Regions from separate parts of the Homo sapiens genome. Here regions 1 and 3 are each linked to region 2. The links come from fine-mapping of genetic effects on gene expression. A gene starts in region 2. Each other region holds a variant in brackets. All regions are shown on one strand. Distances are from middle to middle. Region 1 overlaps GRAMD1C (GRAM domain containing 1C). Region 2 holds the start of GRAMD1C (GRAM domain containing 1C). Region 3 overlaps GRAMD1C (GRAM domain containing 1C).

What was found.
Region 1: its variant is fine-mapped to the expression of GRAMD1C in lung (TOPMed, PIP above 0.99). The same link has a PIP of 0.9 or more in nasal epithelium.
Region 3: its variant is fine-mapped to the expression of GRAMD1C in atrial appendage (GTEx, PIP above 0.99).

The regions. Positions count from the first base shown.
Region 1 is chr3:113,894,305-113,902,489 of GRCh38, reverse strand. It overlaps GRAMD1C (GRAM domain containing 1C), which reads right to left. Exons shown (of 18, transcript NM_017577.5): 7 at 1,344-1,459. Among named protein-coding and RNA genes, the nearest start is that of ZDHHC23, 50 kb to the left of the region's middle. The variant T/C (reference allele first, on the strand shown) is at 3,428.
Region 2 is chr3:113,834,197-113,842,381 of GRCh38, reverse strand. It overlaps GRAMD1C (GRAM domain containing 1C), which reads right to left and starts at 3,594. Exons shown (of 18, transcript NM_017577.5): 1 at 3,446-3,594. The coding sequence starts at 3,472. RefSeq lists a silencer at 3,382-3,581.
Region 3 is chr3:113,923,660-113,931,844 of GRCh38, reverse strand. It overlaps GRAMD1C (GRAM domain containing 1C), which reads right to left. Exons shown (of 18, transcript NM_017577.5): 11 at 1,013-1,131. Among named protein-coding and RNA genes, the nearest start is that of ZDHHC23, 20 kb to the left of the region's middle. The variant C/A (reference allele first, on the strand shown) is at 4,834.

The sequences.
Region 1 (8,185 bases), 60 kb before region 2:
ATTTGCCTGAGGTTGCTCGGCTGTTTGGTGACCCTAACTAAGATCCAGATCCTGTTTACCATAATCCAAGGCTCTTTGCATTAGAGTAACTGCTTTTCTATCCAAATCCAGAGCCGGCAAGAGGCTACTAAACTTCTCAAGGAGAACAATACAATGGAAATTTTTAACTTTACAGAAAGCTAATAAAATATACATGTGCAACCATGTAAAAAAGCCTATAAAATACTGATGCTAAGCTGAAAAGATATAAATTGGATCAGCATAAGTAGATTACCTAGATGAGTAAAATTTCTGCACATACTTTGAGACTTTCAAAATATTTCCATTTTAAGATTTGCTATAGAATTTCTAAATAACAGCTTTTAAGATATAATCCACACACCACAAAATTCACTTCATGTAAAGTGTACAATTTAGTGGGTTACAGAGTTGGGCAACCATCACCACTAACTAATTGTAGAACATTGTCATCACCCCAACAAAGAAATGCTTTGCAGTCACTTGCAGTCACTCCCCATTCTCCCTTCCTATCAGCTCCTGGCAACTACCATTTACTTTCTGTCTCTATAAACTTACCAGTTCTAGACTCCATTTCACATACATGGAATCATACAATATATGGCCTTTTGTGACTGGCTTTTTTCACTCAGCATAATGTTTGCTATAGAATTTTAATGTATTCTCCTTAATTGTTTTTATTGCTAACAGCCTCAATTTCCACTGGACATAATGCACTTTTACTTGTAGAGGTTAATAAAAATGTCCACTCTTCTAAATGAATCCTCATCAGTCAAAAATAGTCTCTCTGTACTCTTAATTTCTTTATCACATTATCTGTTACTCTGTTATGACTCTTACCATTATCGACCTTGTATTACAATTATTTGCATTCCACGGTAGGCTATATGCTCCTTCCATTAATGTATTCAATATTTATGGAGTGCCAACCACATGCTAAGCACTATGTTAGGGAATTCCTGAGGAAAAATCATGTTATTGTATCCTTCAAAACACCTACCATATAATTTACTTTACTGTCATCTATAAACTCAGAGATTTCACTAGGTACTTCTCCAGATCCTTAATAAACAGGCTTACTAAAACCAGACTTTAAGTCTACCCTAAGTGACATAGCCAACATTTCCTTATATATCTCATATGTGCTTACCTATTTAGCAAACTATTCTCTGTCCCCACCTTTCACCCCATTCCACCACAAAGAACAAAGGGGCAAATGGCAGCCAAAGATAAATTACTAGAAATTCAGAATTAGTCGAATGTAAAATAATTCTGCTTTGATTAATAATTGATAAATTTTGACATTTCAAAACATTTTGCTGTACCTTGGCTGCACATCCTCAATCGACAGTGACAAGTTTTCCATCTCCTCAGCATTTAAACCTAGCTCAGTGCCATAGTTCTGCTGGAGCAGTTGCCAGAATTCCTGTCTAGTCAGGCTCTAAAGTGACAGAAAAATTACACTGAGCATTGGAAAATATAAAATATAATATCACAGTGATTCAAAACATGAGTTTTGAAGTCAAAAATGACCTGTTGTGCAAAGACTAGATATGGGGCTTTGGTAGTTATTTGACCTTTCTGTACCTCCATTTTGCATATCTATAAAAATGAGTTAATAAAAGCTATCTGGCAGAGTTCATAAAAGGAATAGATAAAATGATTTTAAAGTACATATTATAATAACTACTGAAAATGGGAGGTTAAAAATGTTTTAAATTTTCTTTCTGTAAAATAATTTGTTCAGGCCAGGCACAGTGACTCACGCCTGTAATCCCAGCACTTTGGGAGGCTGAGGCAGGCAGATCACGAGGTCAAGAGATCGAGACCATCCTGGCCAACATGGTGAAACCTGGTCTCCACTAAAAAAAAAAAATACAAAAATTGGCTGGGCATGGTGGCGCACACCTATAGTCCCAGCTATTCAGGAGGCTGAGGCAGGAGAATCGATTGAACCCAGGGGGCGGAGGTTGCAGTGAGCCAAGATTGTGCCACTGCACTCCAGCCTGGGTGACAGAGCGAGACTCCATCTCAAAATAATAATAATAATAATAATAATAATTTGTTCATACTTTCTGGTAATTACTGATCTGCAGTTTGTTTGCTTGTTTTTGAGATGGAGTCTCACTGTGCCACCCAGGCTGGAGTGCAGTGGTGCAATCTCAGCTCACTGCAACCTTCACCTCCCAGGTTCAAGCGATTCTCCTACCTCAGCCTCCCGAGTGGCTGGGATTGCAGGTGTGCACCACCACACCCAGCTAATTTTTGTATTTTTAGTAGAGATGGGGTTTCACCATGTTGGCCAGGCTGGTCTGGAACTCCTGACCTCAAGTGATCCACCCTCCTCAGCCTCCCAAAATGCTGATATTATAGGCGTGAGACATGGTGCCTAGCCTCTGATCTTCAGTTTAGTTCTGCAATCTAACCAGTCTACCATGACCACTGAATCACCGTTCAGCCCTGTCAGCTTAGAACCTGTCCTCTTAATCCATAATGTATCTGAATATTTTAACCACTTTAAAAATCTTATATATCAATAAATTTTAAACTATATTTTCCTAATATATAAAATGCAAGAGTCTGGACTTCAGAATTTTTCCTTTGATTTATCTTTAATAAAGTCCAGCTTGTTCTTTCTTTGTAGGCAGAAATTAACAAATTTTTAAATCATCAAATACAACAAACTCACACATTACCTAGCAAAACAAAAACAGTATTATTATGATTTAGGATAATGGCCTCCAGTTGAAAAATAAAATTAAATAACAATATTATGATAACCAATGGTCTGATGTCTAAAAACATTACAGATAGTTAATTACCTGCTTAAGCAAGGTGTAAGGAAGTAGCATAACACTTGAAGCAATTGTTAGTAAGATAATCTCTCTCATTCATTCAACAGATATTTATTTAGTACCTAACAAATGTGCGTTACTGCACTAGATGCTAAGGAGAATAAACATAAAAACATAATGTAGAAGTTAAGCTCCTGGCCCTCAAACAACTTTTAATATAGTTGAAGAGACATGGGATGTTCTTAAGTTATATGACAAGATATAATATGATCATGCACTAAAGTACTGGTACAGTCAACATGATATGAAAGTCTAAAGGAAGGAAATAGGACTGTGGATTAGTGTGATCAGATAAAGCTTCACATTGGAGAAGTGTTTTCAGCTGAGATAAAGGAAGAATATGGGGAAATGGAGAAATGGGAAAAGTTGAAGAGACGGAAACCAACTAAAAATACAGAATAAATACATGAACATAAGTAACATTTGTTTTGAAGTCAGTAGTCTATCAGCCTAACTGAAATAAAAATTTTAAGTTGCGAAATAGTAGAGATAAATATAGACTTGATGGGGCCACAACACAGATGCCTTGAATTCCTCCCCAGGGTTCCCTACAA[T/C]AAATACCACTTCCTTTTTCTTCCTCCTTTTTTCTTCTCTGTCTAGTAACTATGGCATCTTTGTTTGTTATGTTATACTAGATGACCTTCATTACATTTCATGGACCTTCAAAGATATTAAGAACAAAATGTCTGCACTTTAGACCACTAGTTCCCAATCTACTGTGCCCAGATTACCAGGATTCCACAAGAGCAGATGATGAAAATTCAGATATTATCATCAGATATTATCAGATAATATTTCAAAAAGTCAAAAATATCCAATTATCTAAAATAAAGCTATTCAAGTTAAGTGAAATGGCAAGCCTCTGTTTCGAGCTGAACTATATTAACCTACAATGGATAACACAGGCTAATAAATTCTCACTGGAAATAATATATATCTAACAAGTAGTGATGTTTTAATATTTATTATTTAATGTATACCCCTTATTTGGTAGACAAAGTCTTTGGAAGCACAGTGTCCATAGAAAAAAACATAAAAAGGACCATTAGTGGTAGAGAAAATTAAGAAACCACTGTCCTTGATATTAAAGGAACATACACGTTTATTTTCTGACTTCCACTCCAAATGAGTCATTTGTTGTGAACTTTTTTTCACAATAATAACTCACACTACTAATTAACTCATTCTTCCAAAGAAATTATCTTTGAAATATTTTAGTGTCTTACTAGGATGGTTAACTTTATAATGAGAAGCAAGCAATATTTCAATATACTTGTGTAAGACTAATCTTTTATAAAAACTTTTCTTAAATAATAGATATCAAACGATTACAAAGGCAGACTAAAGCAAAAAGATAAACCAATGATGAATACTCAGGCAGCTTCCTAACAGCAAAAGAAATGAAACTTATTAGTAAAATACTAACAACAAAAATGTAATTTTATTTGACTACATAAATGTTTTGAATATTGTATTAAATACTAGCAGGAAGTTAATAGCAGGGTAATCACAATATACTTTTCAAGCTAGTAATTTAATATATATAACAGGTTAATGGAAAATAAAATATAACTCATGTAATTCACCATCTTGTAGATTTGCCAATTTGTTAAAAATGACGTTTTCTATAAAGTTGTCCAGTTTTCATAAAAATGTGGTTATTTACAGCCATGTTGAACATTCAAACATTCAAACATATGCCCAGCCTGATATTCATAATTCTTTCAATAATCAGCAGCAAAAATAATCTACCTTAGTAGTCTTCAAAACAACCTAAATTTTAAACACAAGCTGACCACCCACCTGCAAACCAAGGAGAGTCTCTCCCTTTCAGCCTACAGAGTAGTTTAACAAAATAAAGATGAACCAAGCAGTAATCAGATAAGGCTCAAAAGTCAGAAGATCAATTTCTGGCCCAGAAAGCTGTGTATTCTAAGTATGTTGCCATCTCTATGCACAGCAGAGCTCCAAATATTTAATGACAACTATGTAAAAATAATCACTGCTTCAATCTCTCAGTTTTGCTATGAGAAGCTTTTCTAATGTAGTTTAAAGCACATTATCTGTCACTTCCTGGTTGTAGTACCAGCACTCTTTCCAAGGTTGCAGGTCAGAATGCAGAATTGGAAGTTATACCTCACTCTACAGGTTCCTAAGCCACTCCTACAAGAAGAAGATAGGTAAACAGGTTTTATTAAAGGGACAGTTCCTAATTTTCTCTGTTCTACGCACAGATTAGAAAAAACAAAATGAAAGTAAAAACATCTTGCTTATGCTAAATTGATATAAAACAGCTACTGCAATATTATTTTAATCTCATCTTTAAAATTAACTATATTACAGGTTAATTTTTCTTCTCCATGCTAGTAATTTCTATGCAATTCTGGGAATGTCATGATTACCTCTTCATATACTACTTCTCTAGTACTGACGTAGTATTCCTATCAGACTCTTGCATTAATCCTTTACAACAACCAAAGATTCTATCTCTGAGTGCTGTAAATGTAACGTAAGGAAATAGCAGGAAGAGCCAGCTGTTCAGGTGGAATAATTCTACTAAGCACCCGGCACATCTCTCATCACTGAAAGGTTTAAGGCAACATTTTGATTACTCAATAATTCTTTTCTTTGAAAATATTTCTGACTTTGGTGTATTTAGAATAATTCCCTGGCAGTGATCTGGACTATAATAGACAGTACAGTTTCATCTACTAATTCCTATTTATTTCTCAGAAGAAAATTTTTCTTCTAAATAAAGAAGCAAAATTTGCCCTAATTTCTACCTAGTCATTCCATTTAATTTAGTGATGTGTGTAAACAAATCAAAGGCTACTTGATGAACTCCACGGATCAACCTTTTGAGGGATGCTAAAATCTCATCATTTTATACAATGGCAGAATGAGATAGAGTAGAGTGATGCTGAAAATACTACTCATTCAAATGAAGAAAGCCCACTGTGGGGGCAGCTTCCGCTGTCTAAAAGGCAGTGCTTTTAGCATATTATGGTAGTTCTCATTGACTGAAATTGTAACTAAATATATTTACGATGGTGAACAAATAGCTATGAGAAAATATACATTAACTGTACCACAACTGATATTTATACACATTTTTGCTAAATATAAAAATCCTTATACCAAACCACTGCTATGTAGGGCAGAGCTAAATTTAGTAGGCTTCAGAGGGAAAAACAGAACCTAAAACTGAACCCCAAGAAAGCCCAACACACAAAGAGAAAATAGAGGAGTGGCCAGCAAAAAAAGATTCAGGGAAATACCAGAAAGGTAAGAGAAGATTCCAGAAAGAATGTCATGAAAGGCAAGGGAAGAAAGTATTTCAAAATAGAGGGAGTATACAGTGGTATCTAACGCTGCCGAAAGGTCAAGTAAGATGAGCACAGGATGAGCACATGTATGTCAAATGCAAGCATCCAGAGGAATGATGCAGCTTGCCAAACCAGTTCCCCATCACTTGAGCATGTGTGTGTCATGAGAGTGAGGCAGGGAGAGGAGATACAGTGGGGAAGGAGGAAGCAGCCAGGTCATGAAGAGCCTTGTATGCCATGCCAAAGAATATGGACTTTACATTGTCGAAATATCAAAAGCCACCCAGTGGTTTCATATAGAAAAGTAACAAGTTCAGAATTATGATTTTAAAAGACATGATTTTAAAACACTACTATTTGACATCAACCTCAAAGACAGATCAGGTGTTAAAAAGAGATAAGAAGACATTGGTAATGGTTCAAGCTAGAAATGATGATGACCTTGGTGACCAACTAGACACGGCTGGCTGGCAAAGAGGCAAGAAAAAGGATACATCTAGGTTTCTGGCTTGGGTGACTGGGTAGAAGGCGGTGTAGCTCACTGACCAAGGGAAAATAGATAGAGGAGTTCTGACAATCAAGAAGGTAAAAAAGAGGGAATTATATAATACAAACACTTCTATACTGCCATGCTATTACATAGCAAACGTGACAAATAGTTACCAATTTCATATTCATTTTTTTTCCAGGTAGGTCTGAATGTTGCATTTATTAGATTGATAGCACTACTGGAAAACTTTTGGAATTCCAGTAACTCCAAAATAAAAGAACAAGGGGATTTGATAATGTTGCGCAGGCTAAAGGAGAAAGCTGGATGACACTCCTCCAAAAGGTCTCAGTGGCTGACATAGGCTTTGTAAACTGACCACTATTTAGAGAAAAGCCTCAGAGCTGTCACTATCCTAGAGTTGGCTCAGGGAGGCCAACTTATATAAGCCACACTCACGAGCTGATACTAGCTCAGTTGGAAATACACTAATGCACGGTGGGGAAGATTCCTTTCTGGTGATCAGAAATCTTTTCTTCTATCGCCCAGAACACCTGAATACCTTGGAAGTCAGATTAGCAATCAGAAAGTGGCACAACAAGCATGGAATCAGAGCAAAAGTAGACAGCTTTAAGGGACAATTTACTGTGACCTTGGTGGGGCATGATGATTCATCTCTGTCCCATCTCCATATGGTTCTCTATTGATCAAAGTCTGCCTCTGCAACTCTACTTTTCTGTCCTAAGTCCTAAGTTCTTGGCCTACGTCTGACCAAGTCCTCTTCAGACCGATATATTCTTTCTTTTTATACACTAATACTTTCAATCAACTGTTTTAAACCCTTTTTCCCCAACACACCTGAGGAATAGGACACCCTTCTGTCAACCTTCTACTTAGTGATTCCCAAAATAGAAGCTAGAGTAACATGTATCAGAATTTAGACAGCGTATATCTGTATACATTTAAAAAGCTCCCCTCATTACTTTACCCCTGAATCTAACATATGCTATCTTCTTCTGCCATTTGGGAATAAGATGAAAAGACATTCTGTCTCTTTAAGCCTTAAAATTCAAAATAAGTACAGATTTCTGCTCTATTAGACCCTGGATTGAAATATTCACTTTCAGAATATACTCTTAAATTTCCAAGGAGAGCTAGCTTCCCCATAGCCCCCATGTGCTGGCAAGAGAGACCACTATTACCTTGCTAAGATAAAAACAGTACAGGCCGGGCGTGGTGGCTCACGTCTGTAATCCCAGCACTTTGGGGGGCCAAGGCAGGCAGATCACCTGAGGTCAGGCGTTCGAGACCAGCCTGGCCAACATGGTGAAACCCCGCCTCTATGAAAAATACAAAAATTAGCTGGGTGTGGTGGCAAGCACCTGTAATCCCAGCTACTCAGGAGGCTGAGGCAGGAGAATCGCTTGAACCTAGGAGGCGGAGGTTGCAGTGAGCCGAGATCATGCCATTGCACTCCAGCCTGGGCAACAGAGCAAGAC
Region 2 (8,185 bases):
AAGATAAAAGACTGGCTTTTGTGCCTCTACAACATAGGTTCTAAGTTAACTTCAACATCAGCTAAAATGCGGCAATTGGCAAATCTTCATGGCTTTAATCAATATTGGGTCTCAAATTACAGTTATACCTAGAGTTCCCACTAAATTTAAACAAGGTATCCCCTACAATCTTAGGAGTTATTCAACATAAAATAGACAACAAATAGGTATGCCTCACTTTAACCATCAGAACTATACCTTTGCCTAAATACTCCACGATGGTGGTATACATTGCCCTGAAATATCCTATTGTGGCCATGGACACTCTGACACAATTAGTAATAAACTAAATTTAAATCAAGTCTTTAGAGCTTACAAATTGGCTTTCAAAGAAGTGGGACAACAGGCTGGGTATGTTGGCTCACACGTATAATCCCAACATTTTGGGAGACTGAGGCAGGAGGATCACTTCAGGCCAAGAGTATGGAGAACAAGCTGGGCAATACAGCAAGGCCCCCTCTCTACAAAAATTTAAAGATTAGCCTGGCATAGTGGTACACACATGTAGTCCTAGCTACTTGGGAGGCTGAGGTGGGAGGACTGCCAGAGTCCAAGAGTTGGAGATCACAGTAAGTTGTGATTGCACCATTGTGCTTCAGCCCAGGTGACAGAGCAAGACTCTGTCTCAAAATAAACAAAACAGTGAGACCCTATGGACCACCACTCTCAATGCCCAGTTAAAATTATACAACCCAATATAAAACAAAACAGGGCCTTCAAGGACTAAAACTTGTTATGTAAGACCTACTTCAGCCAGGCACGGTGGCTCACGCCATGCTGTAATCTCAGCACTTTGGGAGGGAAAGCCAGGTGGATCACGAGGTCAGGAGTTCAAGACCAGCCTGACCAACATGGTAAAACCCCATCTCAACTAAAACAAAATACAAAAATTAGCTGGGCGTGGTGGTACGTGCCTGTAATCCCAGCTACTTGGGAGGCTGAGGCAGGAGAATTGCTTGAACCCGGGAGGTGGAGGTTGCGGTGAGCTGAGATTGTGCCACTGCACTCCAGCCTGGGCGACAGAGCAAGACTCTGTCTCGCAAAAAAAAAAAAAAAAGAAAGAAAGAAAGAAGTACTTTGTGAAAGTAATTATCCCTACTGCTTCTCCATTTAACAGCCCAATTTGGCCTGTTAAATTTGGTAAGAATGAATGGTACCTCATGGTTCATTACTGCATCCTCGATGATGTCATTTTACCCAGGAAGGCCCCTATACTCAACATTGTTGAAATTACTGACTATCCAGTCCACAACTAGTAAATATTTTGCTGTGATAGATTTGGCTAATATGTTCTGTTCAGTGTCTCTTTCAACACCTCCTCAGCCATAGTTGGTCTTCACCTCCAGAGAGACATAACATCTCTTTACCAGGCTAACCATAGAGTACGCAGTCTTGCCATCATACACAGCCTTTACAGGAAAGATCTTAACTGCATCAAATTTTCTCCAGGAGCACAAGTATAACATTCCATTGATGACATCCTCCCCTGAGGACAGTCTTTTGACATACTCACAAAGGAGCTCACAAAAGGAGGATGGGCTATTGTGCCACACATAGTGTAAGGCCTACCACCTTGGTTAAATTTCTGAAAATAATTTGGTCTCTGTCACCCAGGCTGGAGTGCAATGGCACAAACAGGGGTCACTGCAGTCTCAACCTCCTGTGCTCAAGTGATCTTCCTATCTCAGCCTCCCAAATAGCTAGGACCACAGGCGCCACACAACCATGCCCAGTTAATTTTTCTTTCTTTTTTTTTTTTATTTTGGTAGATACAGGGTCTTGCTTTGTTGCCCAGGCTGGTCTCAAATTCCTGTCCTCAAGCGATACTTCTTTCTGCCTTGGCCTCCCAAAGTGCTAGAATTACAGGCATGAGCCACTGCACTGGGCCACAATGGCTGACTTAAATTCAAATTCAAATTCAAATGGTGCAGGTCAGTCATCAAACATCAAGGGTGAAAAAAAGACCTGGAGCCAGTTTTTTCCTGAGGCTCTCTTAAGCCATTTTAGTGCTGCTTGAGAGGCCTGCCTTGCTCTCCCTGGAGACCTTAATTATGTAAGTAAAAGACTTTTTCAGGGCCGGGCGCGGTGGTGGCTCAAGCCTGTTATCCCAGTACTTTGGGAGGCCGAGGCGGGCGGATCATGAGGTCAGGAGTTCAAGACCATCCTGGCTAACACGGTGAAACCCCGTCTCTACTAAAAACACAAAAAATTAGCCGGGCGTGGTGGCGGGCGCCTGTAGTTCCAGCTACTGGGGAGTCTGAGGCAGAAGAATGGCGTGAACCCGGGAGGCAGAGCTTGCAGTGAGCCGAGATTGCGCCACTGCACTCCAACCTCAGGGTGTGTGTGTGGCATCATCAGTTTCTACTCCAACCTCATGGTGTGTGTGTGGCATCATCAGTTTCTACACCTGAATCAAATTTGGGATGGGGGTCCATTCTGGCTTTCTGGGGTGGCTACAGTAGATTCCTGTCTCTCTGACTTATTAGCTGTGTGGTCCTTAGCAAAGTCAATCTCTGTACATCTGTTCCTTAACTCTACAATAGAGGAAATAATTTTATCTCTAGTCTAGACAATAAGCTTATTGAGAGCAGGGATCATGTCTGTGTTAATCACCATCTAATCCCGAACACCCAGTGCCAGGGACATAACTGAATCAGTGACTGATTGGGTTCATGAATATCCAGCTTGACTATTTCATAGTAATGTTTTTCAAATCAAGTGAAATAACACTCATTCATCTGTTCATTCAACAATTATTTGTGTACCTCCACTAATCTGTAAACTATAACGCTCTTCAGAAGATATAGCACTGACCGCAGTTCTCTAAAAGTAAAATACATACACACAAACCAATGTAGAAGGAGGATGGTGTTCAGAAACGCAGGCGCCCGTCCAACAAAAGCGGGGTTTCATCCTGAATATTAATAAGCACGCTTTCCGTTTTGTCAAATAAGGTAGTAAACAAATAAAACTAGACTAGTTGAAATCAAAAACTTGGCTGACAGCACAGTGATTTAAACTATCCGGACCTTTACAACAGGGCTGAGAATGAAAGGAAGGGGGCAAGGCTGGAAAAAACGTTGACAGTGGGTCAGAATCACGACCATGGGGCCTGACCCAAGGGGGCCTGGGGCTGAGACATCCGCACCAGGACATTTCGGGACCAAATTCAAGCCCTCAACGCCCACAGGGAAGCAAATGTCCCCACCACCGCCCGTAGGGAAAGGGCTCGCAGAGGCACAGGAAACCGTTTCCTCGGTAACAACTTTCCGTATTACTCCAAAGAGCACGAAGAAAAGGGAAGGGAGGGATTAACTGTAATCTGAGAAGGTTCAAGCAATCACCGTGAGAAAAAGTAGGCTAAAGCCACAGATGGGAACCTGCCCCAGCGAGGCCCGCGGCTTACCTGACGGACAGTCGGAGCGCCCTCCATCGCGGCTCCCTCCGCCGCCGCGGCACCGCCCCGCGCGCACCGCACCGCACCGCCCCGCGCCCACCTCCAGCGCGCGCTGCGAGTTACAGGCTCCGCGCGCCTCCTCCGCCGGCCCTCCGAGTACTTCCAGCCGCAGCTCCTTGCGCCCTCTGGCGGCCGTGAAGGATTCCTGACGATGGGTGTTACCGGGTTAGCCTGAAGGCTTGTCTTTCTAGGGGTCACAATGAGACTTCCCTATTCCCAACCTCAAACTACTGTGCCTCCCAGGAAATGGCATACCCTGCCCCAATGTGCGAAAAGGTGAATTGCTCGGAAACTTTTTTTTTTTTTTTTTGAGACGGAGTTTCGCTCTCATTCCTCAGGCTGGATGGAGTGCCAAGGCCCCGTCTCGGCTAACTGCAACCTCCGCCTCCCAGTTCAAGCGATTCTCCTGCCTCAGCCTCCCGAGTAGCTGTGGTTACAGGCGCCTGCCACCACGCCCGGATAATTTTTGTATTTTTAGTAGAGACAAGGTTTCACCATGTGGGTCAGGCTGGTCTCGAACTCCCCACCTCAGGCAATCCGCTGGCCTTGGCCTCCCAAAGTGCTGGGATTACAGGCGTCAGCCACCGCCCCCGGCCAGGAAACTCTTGTTCCTTCCAATAAAGGATTGAAGTTACTGATTAACTGCTGTACGTATTGCAGATTCTTGGTTCTGTAAACCAAAAATAAAATGCCGAGGCCCACCCCCAGCCATCTAAATGGACCCCTCCTCTTGGCCAAGAGCGTTCCAAATTTAACCTGAAAATCTAGTTCAGGCCATGATGAAAGAGGGGATTGGACATGCCTCATTAACATCAACACAGACCTTAAGTCTGAGAAGAAATATTTATCATCTATTGCCTCGGACACCTGCTACTTGGAGGCTGCATCTGCATGATAAAACCTTGGTATCCACAACCCCTTATCCTAACCCAGACATTCCTTTCTACTGATAATAACTCTTTTTTCTCTTTTTCTTTTGAGACAGGTTCTGGCTCTATTAGACCAGCTGGAGTGCGGTGGCGCAATCTCTGCTCACTGCAACCTCCACCTCCCGGACTCAACCAATCCTCCCACCTCAGCCTCTCGAGTAGCTGGGACTACTGGCGTGTGCCACCATGCTTAACTACTTTGTTTGTTTGTTTGTTTGTTTGTTTGTTTGTTTTTTGAGACAGGGTTTCGCCATGTTGCCCAGACTGGTCTCGAACTCCTGGACTCAAGCAGTCTGCCCCCTTCGGCCTCCCAAAGTGCTGGGATTACACGTGCAAGCCACAGCTCCCAGTCAATAATAACGCTTTCAACCAATTGCAAATCAGAAAATTTTTTTATGTACCAATGACCTGAAAGTTCCTCCTTCTCGCCTTGGAGCTGTCTCCCCTTCCAGATTGAAACAATGTAAATCTTACATGTATTGATTGATGTATTAGGTCTGCCCAAAATATATAAAAGCAAGCTGTACCCCAACCACCTTGGACACATGTCATTGGGACTTCCTGAGACTGTGTCACAGGTGTGTCCTTAACCTTCACAAAATAAATTTTCTAAATTAACTGAGGCCTGTCTCAGATATTTGGGGTTCAGAGTTCCCAACCAAACAGCTATAAAAAAGACATTCTAAGCCAGGCACAGTGGCTAACTCATGTAATTCCAGCACTTTGGGAGACTAAGGTGGGAGGGTTGCTTGTGTCCAGGAGTTCAAGACCAGCCTGGGCAAAACAGGGGGGCCCCATCTCCAGAAAAGAGAGACAGAGAGAGAGAAAGAAAGAGAGAGAGAGGGAAGGAAGGAAGGAAGGAAAGAAGGAAGGAAGGGAGGGAGGGAAGACATTCTAGAACAATTGAGGAATAGTGAATATGAAATGGCTATTAGAGTTGATGTTACAGGATAATTAATGATTTATGTATACATTTATGGATATTCATTTATGGATAATTAATAATTTTTGGCAGCTGGGCGTGGTGGCTCAAGCCTGTAATCCCAGCACTTTGGGAGGCTGAGGTGGGAGGATCACCTGAGGTCAGGAGTTTGAGACCAACCTGGCCAACATGGTGAAACCCTGTCTCTACTAAAAATACAAAAATTAGTCGGGCGTGATGGTGAGCACCTGTAATCTCAGCTACTTGGGAGGCTGAGGCAGGAGAATCGCTTGAACCTGGAAAGTGGAGGCTGCAGGGAGCCGAGATCAGGCCATTGCACTCCAGCCTGGGCAAGAAGAGTGAAACTCCGTCTCAAATAATAATAATAAATAATAATAATAATAATAACTTGTGGCTATGTTGCAGGGTGTCTTTAATATTAGAAAACTCACACTAAAATATTTAGGAGTTCCCTGTTATCCATGGGGATGTAAAAAAAAAAAAGTATTTAGGAGTGAAGTAGCACCATGTCTGCAACTTGCTTCCAAATGCTTCCACGAAGATGAATACACAGAGAAAACAAAATAGCGAAACGTTAATTATTGGACCTAAGTGGAGGGTATACTACTATTCAGTTATTCTTTTACTGTTTACATATATTTAAAAATCATAATGTAAAGTTGAAGAGATGGAAAGGAGTTGAATCCAGTTCCACAAAATGTCAGACACTGAGTGTATTTCTTTTTTGTTTTGTTTTGTTTTTGTTTTTTTGAGACAGAGTCTCGTTCTGTCCCCCAGACTGGAGTGCAGTGGCACAATCTTGACTCACTGTAACCTCTGCCTCCCAGGTTTAAGCAATTCTCCTGCCTCAGCCTCCTGAGTAGCTGGGACTACAGGCGCCCACCACCATGCCCGGCTAATTTTTGTATTTTTAGTAGAGATGGGCTTTCACCATGTTGGCCAGGCTGGTCTCAAATTCCTGGCCTCAAGTGATCCACCCGCCACAACCTCCCAAAGTGCTGAGATTACAGGCGTGAGCCACTGCACCTGGCCATGAGCATATTTCTTAAATATATATGACATACTAAAGGACAAATTACTTAATAAGATAATCAGTAAAAGACAGGTTTCCATCCTCATTCTGCAAAACTTTGCATAAACTGTGTTCTGTTAAACATAAAAAACGTCACAGAACACTAATATTAAGCAAGGCCACTGTATGATCATGATAGAGTAAGACAAAAAGAAGGCCACTGGGTAATCATGTCTAAACACAGACAAAAATGTGAACATCGTTCGAAACACAGAAATGACTATGTCCCTATGCTGACTAATATGACTGACTGCTGCCTTTTTCCCAATAACAGCTTTAGCTTCACTTTATTCCACCTACCTTCTAGATAAGATGTATTAAGATACCCAATCAGAATAACCACATCTTATTGACAATATGTAATCTGGGACAAAGCTCCACTTCTTGAATCCTCCTCGCAAAATCACTGAACACAAACCCAAATCCTGTAGTAAGACCTTTCTAACACCCTTTCACTGAGATGTCCTCATGGTTCTCCATGGTATTTTTTCACCCTCATTGCAATGAGTCAATAAACACAATGTTGTCTAACTACAGCTATGGTTCTCCTGGACTTTGGCTGAAGAGCATTGATATATTTTGCAGTGAAATAGAACATAAGGTGAAAGTGAATATGGAAGAAAAGTTGTTAGAAGTTTGAAGAGAAAGGAGAAATTATGAAATACTTAGGAGCACAGGTGAATGAACTGACTAATGTTTTAGGAAAACAGTAAAACAGTAGCATTGCTGGGCAACACAAATGCCTCATTGAGATTAATGGTCATGTATTTAAAGTGAGATCACACTAATATGTAAACAGCTCCCAGAAATCCCTGCTTACCACAATCAGGGGAATGCTTAATTAGGAGATTAATGGTCATGTATTTAAAGTGAGATCACACTAATATGTAAACAGCTCCCAGAAAAACATATGGAAAAACCATAGTCAAGTTAAAATTGTTAAAGTATATGTCAGAAAGTTCATGGAAAAGGAAATATCAGTGTCTTTTTTTTTTTTTTTTTGAGACGGAGTTTCACTTTTGTCACCAGGCTAGAGTGCAATGGCACGACCTCAGTTCACTGCAAACTCCACCTCCTGTGTTCAAGCGATTCTCCTGTCCCAGCCTCTGGAGTAGCTGGGATAACAGGTGCCCACCACCACGCCCAGCTAATTTTTTTTTTTTTTTTTTTAGTAGAGACAGAGTTTCACCATGCTGATCAGGCTCGTCTCGAACTCCTGACCTCATGATCCACCCTCCTTGGGCTTCCAAAGTGCTGGGATTACAGGTGTAAGCCACCGTGCCTGGGCAAATGTCTCTTAAAAATATAAAAGATCCTCAGTTTCACTCAGAATAGCATAGAAATTAAAACCACACTGAAATACTATTTTTCACTTACTAGTTTGACAAAAAGTACAGAAATTTGAAAACGCATTCTGCTGACAAGACCGTGGGGATACAGGACTCTTATAATGGAAGTGTAGAGGCTGGGTGCGGTGGCTCATGCCTGTAATCCCAGCACTTCAGGAGACCAAGGCAGGTGGATCCTTTGAGGTCAGGAGTTCGAGACCAGCCTGACCATCATGGTGAAACCCTGTCTCTACTAAAATGCAAAAATTAGCCAGGCGTGGTGGCAGGCGCCTGTAATCCCAGCTACTTGGGAGGCTGAGGCAGGAAAATCGCTTGAACCCAGGAGGCGGAAGTTGCAGTGAGCCAAGATTGCACCACTACACTCCAGCCTGGGTGACAGGGTGAGACTCTGTCTCA
Region 3 (8,185 bases), 89 kb before region 2:
AAGCGATCCTCCTGCCTCAGCCTCCTGAGTAGGTGAGACCACAGGCACACACCATCATGCCTGGTTAATTTTATTTTTGGTAAAGACAAAGTGTCACTGTGTTGCGCAGTCTGATCTCAAACTCGTGGTCTCAAGTGATCCTCCCACCTGGGCCTCTCAAAGTGCTAATATTCCAGGGATGAGCCACCATAACTGGCCTGGTATTCTTTTTAAAAAAATATTTTCTTTGGGAGGTTGAGGCAGGCGGATCATGAGTTCAGGAGTTCGAGACCAGCCCAACCAACATGCTGAAACCCCGTCTCTACTAAAAATACAAAAATTAGCCAGGCATGGTGGCGTGCGCCTGTAATCCCACCTACTCAGGAGGCTGAGACAGGAGAATCGCTTGAACCTGGGAGGCAGAGCTTGCAGTGAGCCAAGGTTATGCCACTGCACTCCAGCCTGGGCAACAGTGAGACTCCGTCTCAAAAAAAAAAAAAAAATTTGAATATATGAAAGAGAAGAAATGAAGTATAATGACCCTCAGGAGCTCATCAACTAGCTTCAGCAACACTAACTCCTCCCCAGTCTTGCTTCCTTTGTCCTCTGTCCCATATTACCTGCCTCTATCACCATCCTCTGCCCAGCTAGATGACTTCTAAAGGAAATCCTAGACATCAATATAATGTCATCCATAATACTTCACTATATCTCTTTATAGATTCTTCCATATATCTCTTTTAAAATAAATATTATTTTCTTTAATACACAGCTGTAATACCATTACTATACATAAAAAATAAACAATTCCTGAAATCTCATAAATACCTTTTAACAAGTGGTTTGTTTGAATTAGGAGTGGGTTGATACGATTCATATGCCTTTTAAGTCTCTTTTAACCTGTAACAGTTTCTCCTCCCTTTTTTCTTGCCACTTGTTTATTGAAACTGTCTTGTAAATTGGTGAACTATAATAGGCATCTTCTCTCTTCCCCCACACATGACTCTTCTGGACACTGACAAAGCAGACGTACCTGCTTTTCAGTGGCAGCAGTGCATTTTCCAGTAAGTGGACTATTAAGGACTATAGTGTAGGTCATCGTTCTCAGCTGATCACCTCCAAGTTCTGCAGTCCAAGGGGTAGATACTACATCTAACAACAACAAACACAAAATGAGTTAGTTCTAGAAACTTAAACAGTATGACATTAAATGAAATCAAAGGAGCTTCTGAATTATTAAAATTTCTATTTTTGACTAGTGCTAACTTCCTTATAACTGGGTATTATAAGTTTAACATTAAAGAAAAGAGAGATTAAATGTTAAGCACTCTCCTTAAATGTGGCATATTCCCCATCTCTGATCCATTTATTTCTAAATTGTTTATTAATATCCTTTTTCCTTTTATTAGAAGATAAAATTAAAAGTTGTTTCATCTGTAAGCTTCCTTTTAAAGTCCTCAGTACCTATGAAGAGAAGTAATGATGCCAGGTTTATCAGAGACGGAACAACACTTTAACATTCCCATCACTGAGGACAAAACTTTAAAATATTTTTGTCATTAAGAAACCATATGACCTTGATATCAACTTACATAGAAATTATGTCAATGTTATGAGAAATCATGTAATGTCAGTGGCTTGTCTGCTAAAATCTTTAGTCACAGTAAGGCAATGGAACATAAATGATTATATAATCTGTCTTAAGAAGACTATAAGATCATATCTCTATGTTTATAGCAAGATCCTGGTAAAAATTCTCTTTTATTTGCTTAGGGACAATATAGTGATTAAATACCCACTTGAACAGAAATATAGTTCTAGAACACAGTGAAGGTCATTTCATGAAGCCAAAAACTTAAAAAGTATAAATAAAAGCATTAAAAACTCTATTCAAAGACATGATTGTATCACCTAATGCCCCAGCACAAATCGACTTAGGCAAGTACTAGTATGTTTGACTGCTATTCACCAATATCCTAAAGCATAGGAGCCTTTATCTAACCCCATTATACTCATCATCAAAGGAAGGAAGTGAGGCTTTAGAATACAGCCAATTTTACTCAACTTCTTTTATATTGCTAGATCTGAGGATTTAATGAGGGATCCTGAAATTGCCTTCTGAGTATCTGGCAAAGTCTTATAACTAAATTAAAAAGGCAAAATCACAAATCATAGAGTCTATCATCCAGGATTTTCTGTAAAATGATTTATTTAGGTATATATAAAAGAAGATATACAACTAATTCTAAATTACTTTTCAGAAGATTACTTTGGTCATATGTCAGCCTGTTTCAGGAAAATGATACAACCAGTCTGTTGTTAATCAGAAACAAAATTTAAAGATGTAATTTAATTCTGCTCTTAAAACTGCACACTACTCAATGAAGCAACTATCAACAAGGATAAATGAAAACTATTTGTCTTCCCATGAATGTTACCCTTGTAGTTTCAGCAATGTTACCAATAAGGTCTACTGAGTATTGCTTACCAGAGCATCACCTAATTAACATCATCTTGAAACAGTCAATCCTCCAATACCTAAGTAAAGCTTATCATAATGTAAAAAAAACCTGGAATGAATTGTAGGAAAAATGGCTAGTACGCAAAAGGACATATGAACCATTTTGATATATAAAAGGCAGGAACTGCAGAATTTTAAAAATCCTTTGATGTAATAAAGTTTTAAAATTGGTGAACGTTCGTGCCCATTAGGATAGCTATTATAAATAATAATCAGTGTTGGCAAGGATGTGGATAAATTGGAAACTTTGTACATTGCTTGTGGAAATGTAAAATGATACAGCCAGTATGGAAAATAGTAGCCACTCTTCAAAAAAGTAAAGATTGAATTACTATATGATGCAGCAATTCCATTCCTAGGCATATACCCAAAAGAACTGGAAGCAGGGACCTGAACAGACAGTTGTATGTCAATGTTCGTGGTGGCATTATTTACAGTAGCTAACATGTGTAAACAACCCAGATGTCATTAATGGATGAACGGATAAACAAAATGTGGTATATACATGCAATGGAATATTATTCAGCTTTAAAAAAGGAATACATTCTGATACATGCCCCAACGAGGATGAACCTGGAAGGCATTATGCTAAGTGTATTAAATCTGTCACAGAAGGACAAACATTGTATTATTCCACTTATGCAAGGCACCTTGAGTAGTCAAATTCACATAGACAGAAAATAGAATGGTGATCATCAACAATGGAAGAAATGGAGCGTTACCATTCAACAGGTATAGCATTTCAGTTTGGAAAGATTAAAAAGTTCTGAAGATGGATGGTGGCAGTGGTTGTACAATAACGTGAATGTACTTAATGCCACTGAACTGTCCACTTAAAAATGGTTAAATGGTAAATTTTATCTTATGTACATTTTGCCATAATTTAAAAATTGATGAATCTAGGCAAGTGGCATATGGATGTTATCATACTATTCATGCAATTTTTCTGAAGCTTTACATATTTTTAAATGTAAGAGTTGGGTAAAAAGACTTAAAACTGAGCTTTAATTAAAGGTAGTGTCGGGGGTTGGGTGGGTCAAGATGGTGAATTAGAAGCTGCTCGTGTGTGCCGCTCTCACAAACAGGAAACAACAGGGTTGATGAACACTGACCCTACTAGCTGATCATCTAAGAAACCATGTCAGAATCCATCCAGGCAGCAAGGGGACACAGAGGGCAGAGAGGAGCAAAGCTGGGCAGCGGCCCCTCTGGGATCAGCACAGAGCCAGGAAAAGCTCCTCAATATGGGAAAGGATGAGTGAGTGAGAGCTCCCTGGAGGATTGTACACAGGCACCTGTGTAAGACTAGTAATGGGAGAATTCCCTGGTTCCCCTGGCCCTACCCCCACACTTCTAAACTGAGGCAGAGAGACACCCAGAGTTTCTGCGGCGACAACTCTCAAGTCCATGGGGACCTCTATAAGCCTTGGACCCTGGAACGGAATGACACCAGTACCATATCCCCAATAGCGGTCACGGTCCTGCCTGGGAGCAGTAAGATTGCTTCACTCCACCTTGCCAGACAAGACTTGGTGCTAGCCTTCAGCCCAACAGTCCCACTTCTGCCTGAACTCAGCTGGCAGCCACAGCTTCCTGTTGCCCCAGGAAACACCTTGACAGCAGGGTAGGTGACTCCCACCCATCCCTGCTGCTGGTAGCCAGACAGGCCATGCCTGCTAGAGTGTCCAGCCCAGTGGTCTCACTTCTGCCTCAACTATGTGGGCAGGCACAACCCCGTGTTCCCCTAGGAAGTACCCAGACAGCAGAATAGGTGACCACATCCAGTCCCACAGCTCCTAGCTGAGCAGGATGTGCAGGCCTGAGTGATGCCCAAGGAGGGAGAAGCCCTCCCTCTAAGATCACTGAGAGAGTGAGATGCCCAGGTTTGCAAGCCAGTGGAGGGGCAGAGTGTAATTCTTGCTGCAGGGTTGACCTGGCAAGCATATGGCCTGTCTGCCAACCATGGCACCTGCTTAAAAGAGCCCCGTGGTCCAAAACACCCAACAAAAGAAACATGGGCACAGAGCCAGTCAAAGGGGGCTCCTCCAAGGCCCAAGAGCCAACCAGGGTAGGGGGTCATCACTTTCCCTTTTCACCCCAGAACACTACTACAAACCATGCCAAAACACAAATGAGTTGTGCTGCAGCGTTAAGAGCCTATCTGCCAGCTAATACTCTTAAACACTACCTACTAGATCACAGCCCAAAACATAACACCAAAATATTCTGCCAGTATACAACACCTGTGAAAACAAAGGTGACACCTGTGAAAACAAAGGGTTCCCACCAGCGCCCCTGCCCCAGCCAGTGCACAAGCACCCCACCATGCCATC[C/A]TGGCTGCTGGCATTCATGAGCAGCACAGATCCTACTGCCACCACCCCAGTGAATTGCTTTGGCCAGCAACCCCATTGGAGTATTGTGGCCAGTGGACCAGGAACACCTCCACCCCTCCAGTGCAACATATTTCTAACCTCGAAGGGCCAGAGAACAAAGCTGGGGACACACAAAACTATGTGTTCTAACTCTAGCCCCCCACAGTTAGAGCACACAGTCCAGGAGTTCTGAGCTGAGCCTGGGCCCCCTGAAATCTTCCAGAAGTGAAGATGGTCAACTGAACCCACCTTATTCCACAATCAAACCCCCACAGGCATCAAAGCAAAAAAACCCCATCCAAAAGACAGCAACTTCAGAGATAAAAGGAACATCAGTCCATACAGATGAGAAAGAACCAGTGCAAGAACTCTAGCAACTCAAAAAGTTGGAGTGTCTTCCTACCTCCAAACAATTATACTAGTTCCCCAGCAATGGTTCTTAACCAGGCTGAAATTACAGACATAGAATTCAGAATATAGATAGGAATGAAAATCATTGAAATTCAGGAGAAACTCAAAACCCAATCCAAGAAATCTAAGGAATACAAAAAAATGACACAAGAGCTGAAAGACAAAATGGCCATTTTAAGAAAGAATCATACTGATCTGAAATTTCATAATACAAATTGCAAGTATTAACAGCAGAATAGACCAAGCTGAGAAAAGAATCTCACAGGGCTGGTTCTCCAAATTAACTGAGACAAAAATAAAGAAAAAAGAATAAAAAAGAACAAAACCTCTGAGAAACATGGGATTATGTAAATAGATCAAATCTATGCCTCACTGGCATCCCTGAAAGACAGGGATAGAAAACAAGCAACTTGGACAACATATTCGAAAATATCATCCACAAAAACTTCCCCAACCTCACTAGAGAGGCCAACATTCAAATGCAGGAAATGCAGAGAACCCCTATGAGATACATACAAGACAACCATCCCCAAGACACTTAGTCATCAGATTCTCCAAGGTCAACGTGAAACAAAAAATATTAAAGGTAGCTAGAGGGAAGGGGCAGGCCACCTACAAAGGGAATCCTATCAGGCTAACAGCAGAAACTCTATATTTGAGGGCTTGAGGGCCTATATTCAACATTCTTAAAGAAACTAAGACCAAGAATTTCATATCCAGCCAAACTAAGTTTCATAAGTGAAGGAGAAATGAGATCATTTTCAGACAAGCAAATGCTAAGGGAATTCGTTACCTGCCTTCCAAGAGGTCTTCAAGGTGGTGCTAAACATGGAAATGAAAGACTGTTAGCAGCCACCACAAAAACACACTTAAGTACATAGACCATTGACACTATAAAGCAACTACACAATCAAGTCTGCAAAATAACCAGCTAACAACACAATGACAAGATAAAATCCACATATATCAATATTAACCTTGAATGTAAACGGGCTTAATGCCCCAATTAAAAGGCAGTGGAAAGTTGGATAAATAAGACCCAACTGTATGCTGGGTTTTGTTTGTTTGTTTGTTTGTTTGTTTGTTTTTTGAGACACAGTCTTGCTCTGTCACCCAGGCTGGAGTGCAGTGGCATGATCTCAGCTCCTGGGTTCAAGCAATTCTGCTGTCTCAGCCTCCCGAGTAGCTGAGACTACAGGCAAGTGCCACCATGCCCGGCTAATTTTTTGTATTCTTAGTAGAGATGCGTTTTCACCATGTTAGCCAGGATGGTCTCGATCTCCTGACCTTGTGATCTGCCTGCCTTGGCCTCCCAAAGTGCTGGGATTACAGGCGTGAGCCCCCGTGCCCAGACAACTGTATGCTGTCTTTAGGAGACCCATCTCACATGCAATGGCATCCATAGGCTCAATGTAAAGGGGTGGAGAAAAATCTGGCAAGCAAATGAAAAACAAAAAAAGCAGAGATTGCTATTCTAATTTCAGACAAAACCAAAACAGACCTTAAACCAACAATGATTTAAAAAGACAAATAAGGGCATTACATAAAGGTAAAGGGTTCAATTCAACATGAAGACTTACCTATCCCAAGTATATATGCAATCAACACAGGAGCATCCAGGCTCATGAAACAAGTTCTTAGAGACCTACAAAGAGACTCAGATAACCACACAATAACAGTGGGAGACTTCAACACCCCATTAACAGTATTAGACAGATCACTGAGTCAAAAAACTAACAAAGATAGTTGTGACCTGAACTTGACATTTAACCAAATGGACCTAACAGACATCTACAGAGCTCTCCACCCCAAAACAGCAGAATATACGTTCTTCTCATTTGCACCTGGCACATACTCTAAAAATCGACCACACAATCAGCCATTAAACAATTCTAAGCAAATGCAAAACACCCAAAATTATATTAACCACACTCTCGGACCACAGTGCAATAACAATAGCAATCAATACTAAGAAGATCACTAAAAATCATACAATTACATGGAAATTAAACAACCTGCTCCTGATGACTTCTGAGTAAACAATGAAATTAAGGCAGAACTCAAGAAATCCTTTGAAACTAATGAGAACAAAGACAGAAAATACCAGAATCTCTGGGACACAGCTAAAGCAGTGTTACAAGTTTATAGTGCTAAACACCCACATGAAACAGTTAGAAAGATCTAGAAATAACAATCTAACATCACACCTAGAGGAACTAGAAAAACAAGAGCAAATCAACCCCAAAGCTAGCAGAAGACAAGAAATAACCAAAATTAGAGCTAAACAGAATGAAATTGATATGTGAAAAACCATACAAAAGATCAATGAAATCATAAGTTGGCTCTTTGAAGAATAAATAAGATTAATAGACCACTAGCTAGACTAATTTAAAAGAGAAGATCCAAATAAACACAATCAGAAATGACAAAAGGAACATTACCACCGACCCCACAGAAAAAAAAAAAAAAACCCCAGAGACTATTATGAACACCTCTATGCACAAAAACTAGAAAACCTAGAAGAAATGGATAAATTTCTGGAAATATAAAACCTCCCAAGATTGAGCCAGGAAGAAATTAAAACCCCGCACAGACAAAGAATGAGTTCCAAAATTGAACCAGTAATTAAAAACCTATCAATCAAAAAAAGCCCAGGACCCGATGGATTCACAGCCAAATTCTACCAGACATGTAAAGAAGAGTTGGTACCACTCCTACTGAAACTATTCAAAAAAATTGAGGAGGAAGAACTTCTCCCTAACTCATTCTATGAGGCCAGCATCATTCAGCATCATTCTGATACCAAAACCTGGCAGAGAAACAACAAAAAAAGGAAACCTTAGGCCAATATGTTTGATGAGTATTGATGCAAAAATCCTCAACAAAATACTAGCAAACTGAA